Linked DNA regions of Homo sapiens: region 2 is linked to region 1. Evidence: fine-mapped expression QTL. A gene starts in region 1. The other region holds a variant in brackets. All regions are shown on one strand. Distances are from middle to middle.

Region 1 (5,378 bases):
TAACAGATGGAAGGGGTGGGGTGCTGATAACAGACGGCAGCGTTTGAATGTTTCAGAGGTAGTAGAGATTGGTGACAGCAAGGCCTAGGGTGGTGATCCTCAAACTTCAGTACGCATTGGAAGCACCTGGAGGGCTTGTTAAAACACAGACTCCTGGCCCCAGCCCACAGTTCCTGATTCAGCAGGTCTGAGGTGGGGCCTGAGACATTGCATTTCTAGCAAGCTCCCAGATGCTGCACTTGTGGCTCAGGGACCACAAGTGAATGGAAGTACTAGGTAAGGTGGAAGAAAAGCTCTTTGGAACTAAAGAGATCAAGGACCAGGCCAGGCCCGGTGGCTTACGCATGTGGGACCATGCCAGGTTGCCAGCAATTAGAGACTAAGAGGGCAGTGTGACCCCCACACATCTCACTGGGGCCGGGCGCAGTGGCTCATGCCTGTAATCCCAGCACTTTGGGAGGCCAAGGCGAGCAGATCATCTGAGGTCAGGAGTTCGAAACCAGCCTGGTCAACATGGTGAAACCCCATCTCTACTAAAAATAGAAAAATTGGCCGGGCATGGTGGCAGGCACCTGTAATTCCAGTTACTAGGGAGGCTGAGGCAGGAGAATCGCTTGAACCCGGGTGGCGGAGTTCACAGTGAGCCGAGATCGCACCACTGCATTCCAGCCTGGGTGAAAAGAGCAAAAACTCTGTTTCAAAAAAAAAAAAAAAAAAGAGAGAGAGATCAAGTACCTTTGAGGCCAGTGTATGGGATGGGCTGTTTATCCACTTGGAGGTCACAGTCACTGAAATGACTGACATGATGCTTTGAGACAAGCAGGGAAGTCACCAGTGAATGACAGTAATGAGGAGAAGTAAATAGTGGCAAGGAGTCAGATGTGGCTTCAAAGGGACTGGCCTTTTTTGGGGAGAAAAAAGTAAAAGGCCATTTGGAGGCAAGAGTTAGAAGCGAGGAGGACACTAGCCCTGTTATCTAGACCTTGAGGTGTGTGTGGGGGAGAAAAACCCACCACCACTTGAAAGGATGACAGAAGAAATCACATTTCTCCTTCAGGAATAGCAAGAAAGTTAAAAGAGCTTTCAGAGCTCAGTGACGTCTGGAGGCAGAGAACAGTGAGAGAGGAGGTCAGGCCTGGAGATGTGCAAAACAATTCAGGCTGAACACCCAGTGAGGGATGGGTAGGTTAAGGATAGATTCACTGGAACTGCTGCCTCTGAAGTCTTCTAGAAAAATGAGTGTCACTGGGCGTGGTGGCTCATGCCTATAATCCCAGCACTTTGGGAGACCAAGGCGGGTGGATCACTTGAGGTCAGGAGTTTGAAACCAGCCTGGCCAACATGATGAAACCCCATCTCTACTAAAAATACAAAAATTAGCTGGCTGCTGGGTGCATCAAACCAACATGGCACATGTATACCTATGTAACAAACCTGTATGTTGTGCACATGTACCCTAGAACTTAAAGTATAATAAAAAAAAAAAAAAGAAGAAAAAATAGCTGGGTGTTGTGGTGTGCACCTGTAATCCCAGCTGCTCGGGAGGCTGAGGCATGAGAATCACTTGAACCCGGAGGCGGAAGTTGCAGTGAGCCGAGATCACACCACTGCACTCCAGCCTGGGCGACAGAGCGAGACCCTGTCTCAAAAAATAGAAATTTAAAAAAAAAAAGCAAAGAAAAAGAAAAATGTGTGTCCCTGGTCTTTTGATTTCTTGGAGGTGTCATTTTTATGTTACATTAAAATAAGCATGAATATGTAATTGTTCAAAAGCAAATTTTACATGACCTATAATGTAAAAGTAAGAGCCTTCAAAGATATTTTAGGCCATGCTCCCAGATCCTTCTCACATGTTAGTATTTTGGAGGAAATGTGAAAAAGGCACTACCCCTAGGTCTTGTGTGAAGGGTTGGAGGGAGGCATTTGTAGTTTAAATCAGAAAGTGAAAAGCTCCCAAGATGAAAGGTGTAATCTGGAAAGGAGCTTCAGGGACCGAGTTAGCCTGGGAAGAGAGTTGCTCACCTAGAGCCCTTCCCATCATAGATTCTGCCTCTTTTCACTAGACCGTCTGAGGGGCGAGTCCCAGATCACCAGCAGATTCTGTTTTATGGCCTAGGACTTGATCTCACTTCCTCTCTGGATTTGAGTCTCCTGTCTCCAAGATGGGCCTCCCTGAAGCAATGTGAGGCCCAGCTAAAGAGATAGGGAGTGAGTGAGATGGGAGGATCCCAGCCTAGCACCCCGACTCTTTCTTCACTCTGCATCTCTCTGCTTACCTCTCAGTTTCTTCCCCTTCTACCTCTTCAGAGTCTACCAGGGCCAGCTTGGTTGCTTTGTTGACAAGGCTAAGGGAAGGAGTGAGGCTGGAGGAGTTTAGGCTGGAGGTCAGAACTTCCTGGGGAATCTCTTTTTTTTTTTTTTTTTTTTTTTTTGAGACAGAGTCTCACTCTGTCCCCCAGGCTGGAGTGCAGTGGTGTGATCGCAGCTCACTGCAACCTCTATCTCCCAGGTTCAAGTGATTCTCCTGCCTCAGCCTCCTGAATAGCTGGGATTACAGGTACCCACCACCATGCCCAGCTAATTTTTTGTATTTTTAGTAGAGACAGGATTTCACCATGTTGGCCAGGCTGGTCTCGAACTCCTGACCTTGTGATCCACCCACCTCGGCCTCCCAAAGTGCTGGGATTACAGGCATGAGCCACCGCACCCGGCCACCTGGGGAATCTTCTAATAGTCTTAGGGCAGCTTAGCTGGCCTGGACCCACCTCCCTTGCCACCTGCCCCCTGCACCGACTGATCATGTTCAGTCACCCAGGAGATGATGGAGAGGCTGATCAGGCCTCCTGGAAAGGGAGGAAGAGGGCCCTAGTTGGAGAGATCCATCAGCAGAAGCCAGGGAGGAGATACAGACCCTTGCTCCCTGATGCTCCTCAGGGCTAGCATGGGGCAGGAGTTTAGCTGGGAGGAGGCGGAGGCAGCTGGCGAGATAGATGTGGCGGAGCTCCAGGAGTGGTACAAGAAGTTTGTGATGGAGTGCCCCAGCGGCACACTCTTTATGCATGAGTTTAAGCGCTTCTTCAAGGTCACAGACGATGAGGAGGCCTCCCAGTATGTAGAGGGCATGTTCCGAGCCTTCGACAAGAATGGGGTAAGGCACCCTGAAGGGAAGGACCAGTGGCCAGTCCACCTGGCGCCTTCCTCCACAAGTGTCCTCAGGGAGAGCTCCCAGTTCCCCACTCCTCGGCTCTTTCTCTGCTCTTCTTTCCACTCCGTCTCTCTTTACCTTTTCTGTCTCACTCACCAAACCCTTCTGTCTCTTCTCTTCCTTTTGTCCCTTTCCATCTTCTCTGTCTCTCCTTCCCTCCCTCCATCTCTTAGCTGTCGGCTGATGCTCCCTGTGTCCTCTTCTTGAGAGCTGAAGGGCGACTGGCAGACAGTCCAGGTCCTCTCTTTGTGTATTTTTGACCAAGACTCTGCAGCCCAATGACCGGGTTTTCGCATCTGCCAGAGCCCCTGTCACTCTAAACACTAGGAGCAAAAGAGATGTTCTAAATGAGACAAGGTATCTTAGCATGGGCTATGAGCTCCCTCTTGTTGGGGTTCTTCTGAGACTGGTCAGATCCTCCCTGTCAAGAATGCTGGAAGAGGCTCCTGCATGTATTGGGAGACTGGGCGAATGACTGCAAAAGCCCCTTTCAGCTCTTCAAGTCCTGGAAGGTTTCATTAAATCATTCAGACTAGAGTTTCTCTAAGCCCACAATGTCACTAGCAGCTAAGAAGATAACACATCTTGTAAATGCACCAGGGGATTGAATTTTAAATTTCAATTCAGTTAAAAACCCCTTGATTATTTAAGGTTATCCAGTTCAGTGCCCTGGCAATCCTCAAATACCTCAAATACCTCAAATGCCCTGGTATTTGCCTCAAATACCAATTTAATCTGAAGAAAGTGTCAGTTCTCCATTCCTCAGTGCGTGGAGAACTTAGCTTTCTAAGCTGAATCACTGGGAATGCCACTTCAGGTCTCATCCTGTCGCTGGTACCAGTCAGTGCACGTCCCCACAGTGCCTGTCCCGGGACAGGAGGGTGAGGTCAGCACCTTCAATTCAACAGAACCTCCTTAGAGATGAACCCCATCGACCACCCCACAGGGCACAGAGCCAGTTTCGGACTTCTCAGCGCTCCGCCTCTCTTAGGTCTCCTCTGAATCAGCAGCAACCCTGGGTGGGAGGGGCAGACTTTTGTTATTCCAAATTAAATGATGAGAAAGCTGGGCAAAAGGGAATGAATCGATTTGCCCAAGGTCTTAAGTGCTCCTGCCTAGAAGGCAGGTTTTTTAAAGAGAGAAGATGACTTTTTAAAATAATTGATGTTTTTTTAAAATGTAAGAAAAGTAAACAAATATATCAGGTCATAAATAATAAGACTCATTTAAGTCCATCAATCTTCCCCAGATTCATCTAAAAATCAATACGATCATGATTCAAGATCCAAAGGGCTGATTAAGCCCCTAGGCATATAGTTGTACTCCTTATACCTCATCTCTTCTTATAAATCGGCATATGATGTTCATCAATGTTTTTTCCTTTTTGAATAACTTTTTAATTTTACTATGATTCTAAATTTACAGAAGAGTTATAAGAATGATACAAGTAACTCCCATATGCAATTTATCCAAATTTCCCCAGTTATTCACATTTTATATCATTTACTTTATCATTCTGCCTCTCTCTGTATACATACATATATATAATGTATCCTATAAGTATATATACATATACATGATACATAATTTATACATATACTTTTTTTAAGAGAAAGCTATAGATATCATGCCCGTTTATCCCTAAGTATTTCAGTGTGTATTTTCTTTTTTGTTTTTGAGACAGAGTCTCGCTCTGTCACCCAGTGGCATGATTTCAGCTCTTTGCGGCCTCTGATTTCCCAGGCTCAAGGGATCCTCCCACCTCAACCTCTCAAGTAGCTGGGATTACAGGTGTGCACCACCATGCCTGCTAATTTTTGTATTATTTATTTATTTATGTTGGTAGAGATGAGGTCTCGCCATGTTGCCCAGGCTAGAGTGCAGTGGCACAATCTCAGCTCACTGCAATCTCCACCTCCTGAGTTCAAGCAATTCTCATGACTCATCCTCCTGAGTAGCTAGGATTACAGGTGCACACTCCCATGCCTGGCTAATTTTTGTATTTTTAGTAGAAACGGGGTTTCACCATGTTGACCAGACTGGTGTCGAACTCCTGACCTGAAGTGATTTGCCCACCCCGGCCTCCCAGAGTGCTGGAATTACAGGCATGAGCCACTGCACCCGGCCAGGTTTCTTTCTTTTTTCCTTTTTCTTTTCTTTTCTTTTCTTTTCT
Region 2 (5,378 bases), 20 kb before region 1:
GTGGGTTAGATATCCTCTGCGCAGTTATTTGCAGGAGGAGCAAAAACTTTTCAGCAGCGGTTCTCCTGCTTTTTGGCCTTGGGACCACTTTACACTTTCGGAGTTCAGGACTCCAGAGAGCTTTTGTTTTTGTGGGTTTTTGCTATCTATATTTAGCTTTTTGGAAAATAAAACTTAAGAATATATATTGATTTAAAAGTAACACTAACTCATTACATGTTACAACTAATACTTTATGAAAAATATATTTTCTGAACAAACTGAGTAAGGAGCAGCAATGTTTTACATTTTTGCAGCTCTCTTTAATTTCTGGCTTAATAAAAGCTAGATTCAAATCTGCTTCTGTATTTAATCTTTTCCTATATCACACCTCAGGCTGTCACGGGAAAACTTCACTGTACACTGGTAAGAGAATGAGTGGAAAAGTTGTAAATGACGTTTTGGTTTTATGAAAATAGTTTTGATTTCCCGGATCCCCTGAAAGTGTCTCAGACCCCACAGACGTCCTCAGACTACACTTTGAGACCACCGTTTTTGTTTTTGTTTTTGTTTGGAGACGGAGTTTCGCTCTTGTCGCCCAAGCTGGAGCGCAATGGCACGATCTCGGCTCACTACAGCCTCCACCTCCCGGGTTCAAGTGATTCTCCTACCTCAGCCTCCCGAGCAGCTGGAATTACAGTCATGCGTCACCATGCCCAGCTAGTATTTGTATGTTTAGCAGAGACGGGGTTTCACCATGTCGGTCAGGCTGGTCTCGAACTCCTGACCTCAAGTGATCCGGCAGCCTCGGCCTCCCAAAGTGCTGGGATTACAGCCTTGAGCCACCGCACCCGGCCTGAAAACCACTGTTCTTGAGAAAAGTCAGATGGTATTAGAGATTGAAATTTTTGAACTGCTTTATTAAGACAAATTTACCCAGACAGCCCTCCCTTCCAAACCACCACTCCCCCAACACACACACACACACACACACACACACTCTCTCTCTCTCTCTCTCTCTCTCTCAAGAAATACAAAGAAAAAATGCAATTTAAAAACTTCTTGGCCGGGCACGGTGGCTCACGCCTGTAATCCCTACACTTTGGGAGGCCGAGGTGGGCGGATCACGAGATCAGGAGATCAAGACCATCCTGGCTAACATGGCAAAACTCCGTCTCTACTAAAAATACAAAAATTAGCTGAGTGTGGCGGTGGGCCCCTGTAATCCCACCTACTCAGGAGGCTAAGGCAGGAGACTTGCTTGAACCCAGGAGGCGGAGGTTTCAGTGAGCTGAGAATGCTCCACTGTACTCCAGCCTGGGCGACAGAGCAAGACTCTCTCAAAAAAAAAAAAAAAAAGAAAAGAAAAAAAAAAGAAAAGAAAAAGCAGAGGTTTATAGTGGGAGAATGTGACTGAGAAGTGTAATATTCTTGCTCCTCTTGCACAACTCGATTGTGGGGTCACTGGTGTAATTGTTGGGAGGGAATTTTCTATGCAATTTTGTCTGAAGAATGGCACATACCTCTTACCACTTTGTGTTGTACCTGATTTCCTTTTTCCTTTTCCCCTTTGGTGCAAAGAAGATTATAGAGTTATGATTTGTCTCTATCTTGGGTAAGGAGAGGAAGGACAATAAGCTAAGAATAGGCTTTTAAAACGTGGCTAGGTGGTGGTTCACTCCTGAAATCCCAGCACTTTGGGACACTGAGGCTGGAGGATCGCTTGAGCCCACGAGTTCAAGACCAGCCTGGGAAATATGGTGAAACCCCATCTCTACAAAAGTACAAAATATTAGCTGGGCCTGGTGGCCCGTGCCTGTAGTCCCAGCTATCTGGGAGACTGGGGTGGGAGGACCACCTGAACCTGGGAGGTCCAGGCCATGATCATGCAACTGCACTCCAGCCTGGATAACAGAGTGAGACCTTGTCTCAAAAAAACCCTGAAAAAACAAACAAAAACGTACTTAGGTGACAATCATTTGTATTAATGAAACTTCACTTATGCTAAACTTCTTTTTTTTTTTTTGAGAGGGAGTCTCGCTCTGTCACCCAGCCTGGACCTCCGCCTCCCGGGTTCAAGCGATTCTCCTGCCTCAGCCTCCCAAGTAACTAGGATCACAACCGCACCGCCACCATGCCTGGCTAATTTTTGTATTTTTAGTAGAGACAGGGTTTCACCATGTTGGCCAGGCTGCTCTGGAACTCCTGACT[A/G]CAAGTGATCCACCCACCTTGGCCTCCCAAAGTGCTGGGATTACAGGTGTGAGCCACGGCACCTGGCCTTATTTTCATCTTCATTGTGTTTTTAAGGATTCTATTGTGTTTCCACTTTCTCAGGTTACACTTCAAAATCTCAGAAAAGTTGAAAGGAAAAAACAGCTGTTATATGTAGTAGTATCGTTTGTTTCCTAAAACTGGAAAGTCTTGTTCCACCAGGGGGAGCTGATGGTAAAGGATTTGGAAATGTGGGTTCGTTGTAGCATGTGGCACAGTAGTTAATGATGGGTATAAGTCACAGCACATATTTCAGTTCATTATAAGCTAGTTATCCCAGCCAAGCTAAGAAATATGTATGCTTTAAAAGATGTATGAAAGCATCAAAAGAGGGATACTTCAGAATTTTTATTCCAACTCTTAACAAATTATAAAAACAATATATTTTATTGCTTAAAGATATTCAGGCAAAATAAGTATTATACTGAAGTACAATTAATTTGTAAAAAATAATGGGAAAATGAAGTCACATTTTTTCTTGATGTCCACATAATTCATAGCTTTTTTTAAATGTGAGAATTGTTTTTTTTGAAAAAGTTTTTATTCCTAATCTTTAAAATAGAGATTCTCTAGTATTTTGAGACTGCTTTTTTTTTTATCATCAGCTCTACCATTGTCCTCTTTTTTTTTTCAATCTAATTTGGCCATTTTAGTTACCCCAGTATCTTCGTCTGAAATAATGAGGTAACCTTTTAGTTTTTAGTGGAAATTATGAATGGTTTGGTAGTTGACTTTAATTCTAACACATGTCCTACTTTTTTTTTCTTTAGGGATTGGGGAATTTTTCTGTAAACACTTCTAAGGGCAATACAGCCAAAAATGGTGGCTTGCTTCTGTAAGTATACAATTGGATGTGCTAAATTGAACAAAATAGGTTCTTGTGCTATTTTACTTAGGTTTCTCTTTTTTTCCCCACACATAGCAGTACCAATATGAAGTGGGTACAGTTTTCAAACCTACACGTTGATGTTCCAAAGGATTTGACCAAACCTGTGGTATGTACTCCCTGTTTCTTGGTATAAGGAGCTACCTTGGCAATAGGTTTTCCTTATTATTTCATTGGGTTTTTTTTCCCCAAACACTCTATGAATAAAAAAATTTTGTCCTAGAATACTGGCAAATGCACAACGCATATATTCTCTTAACTCCCTGGATTATATTGTCTTCAGGGTATCAAAGTAAGTTCTAAAGGAATAAATTATTTACCCCCAAATAACTGTGTTAATTAGTAGTCTCTTGCTTTTAGCTTGGCATAATGGAAGAGTTGTCAGAATTTGTGATGTAGAATACTTGATTTATGTTATGGAAAAGTATTTTTCTTGTAGCCTTCAAGTCTTTGTTTTCATTTTGTGTATTGAGCCTGGGCCTGGACAGTGCTTTATTGTTCACAGTGAGAAAATGCGTTAGCACAAATAATAAACATCTAGAAGGAACTTGGTAACCCTGTAGAAGCTATGATTTCATCAATCCAGTTTTTTGTGTTACTTGTAATTTTTAAAAATCCTTTCATTTCCACCCCTCAAAAATAACCCCCTTTAACAGTTTGGGATTACAGTTCTAGACATTTGTCTGTAGGTACTCACTTTGTCTGTGCACATGTCTAGTTTACTGCTCTTTTCTAACTTTTCTCTTAATAGATATTGGATATTTATTTATTTATTTATTTTGAGACAGAGTCTCGCTCTGTCACCCAGGCTGGAGTGCAGTGGCATGATCTCGGCTCACCTCACCTCAGCCTCCTGGGTTCAAGTAGTTCTCATGCCTTAGCCTCCCGACTAGCTGGGATTACAGGCACACACCACCATGCCTGGCTAATTTTTGTATTCTTAGTAGAAATGGGGTTTTCCCATGTTGGCCAGGCTGGTCTCAAATTCCTGGCCTCAAGTGATCTGCCTGCCTCAGCCTCCCAAAGTGCTGGGATTACAGGCATGAGCCACCACACCTGGCCAGTACTGGATGTATTTCTATGATAGTACATTTAAGCCCCAGTCTGCAACTCACATGCCTGCAGGAGCCAGGCCTATAAGAAAAGGTGGCAGAATTGGCATGGTGTGCCACTGTCTTTATAAGCAAGACAGCAGCTACTTATTCTAGCCACTTGTTGCCCTGTGGGAAATCAGACCTAGTGATGCCAGCCTGTCTAAATCTTCCAAGCTAAACTGAAATCCAGATTTTCTTGTGAAATCTTCTGATTTTTAATATTCCTAACAAATTCAAAGTATCTTTTAACACCCTGTAGGGATCAGTCAGAACACATCTTGAGGCTATATTCCCCCTTCTCATCCCTCAACTTAGGACACAGGCTATCAGTATATTCTGTTCTTCCAACAACCCTTTTTGGAGTAATTGAGAGTGGATATCTAGCTTTCTGGCTAGTAAGTAAATCTTTCAGGAGTGAAGTGATTTAACTCTGAATCATTGGATTAGTAGTATAATTTACTGGTTTAACGGATGAATGAAATGAAGGTAATTCACCTTTTGGAAGAAAGTCAAAAATGTCAAACCCATTATTTCTAAGGTCTTTAGGTATTAGGGTGGAAGAGGTTGAAGTTATAGGTATAGTCAGTGTCATATCATTTAAATTAGAAATGAGTAATTTGTTTATTAGGGCAGACAAAACATACGCGAATAAAACCTAATAAAAAATATGAATAGAACTAACTTGGCTTTGTATAATAATGTTTTATAATTAATAAGCACTTTAATCTGTGTTTTCTTATTTTTTTCTTAGAGAAATACTATGAGCAATAGCATAGGTTTACCCTCTTTCATATGTGAGGAAACTAATGTGCAGTGAGACGATATGATTTGTCCGTTGTCATTCAGCTACCATTAGCAGAGCTTAATCCTCAATCCAAGTCTTCTGCCCAGGCTCTTTACTAGCAGACCCTGGAGTCCTTTTTCATTGTGAATTTGAAGCTGAATCGTTATTTTAAGTTGGAAAGTTCCTTTAGTAATTTTGTGGGTTGCCTTGAAAATTCTTTTCATTTACACTGTATTTTAACAGATTCTGAGGCTCATAGTCCAGATCTGAACATGAAAGTATCTAGACACTTCAGCTAACACTGCCGTCACTCAGTGTTTTTCTCCTCATTTATTAGTAAACTCTGAAGTTGTTCAATTGAGGC

The links.
Region 2: its variant is fine-mapped to the expression of GUCA1B in whole blood (TOPMed, PIP above 0.99).

Annotation. Positions count from the first base shown.
Region 1 is chr6:42,192,384-42,197,761 of GRCh38, reverse strand. GUCA1B (guanylate cyclase activator 1B) reads left to right here and starts at 2,806. Exons shown (of 4, transcript NM_002098.6): 1 at 2,806-3,148. The coding sequence starts at 2,942. RefSeq lists a cis regulatory region at 1-315.
Region 2 is chr6:42,211,987-42,217,364 of GRCh38, reverse strand. MRPS10 (mitochondrial ribosomal protein S10) reads left to right here. Exons shown (of 7, transcript NM_018141.4): 2 at 3,021-3,085; 3 at 3,173-3,245. Among named protein-coding and RNA genes, the nearest start is that of MRPS10, 3.2 kb to the left of the region's middle. RefSeq lists enhancers at 188-789, 790-1,392. The variant A/G (reference allele first, on the strand shown) is at 2,191.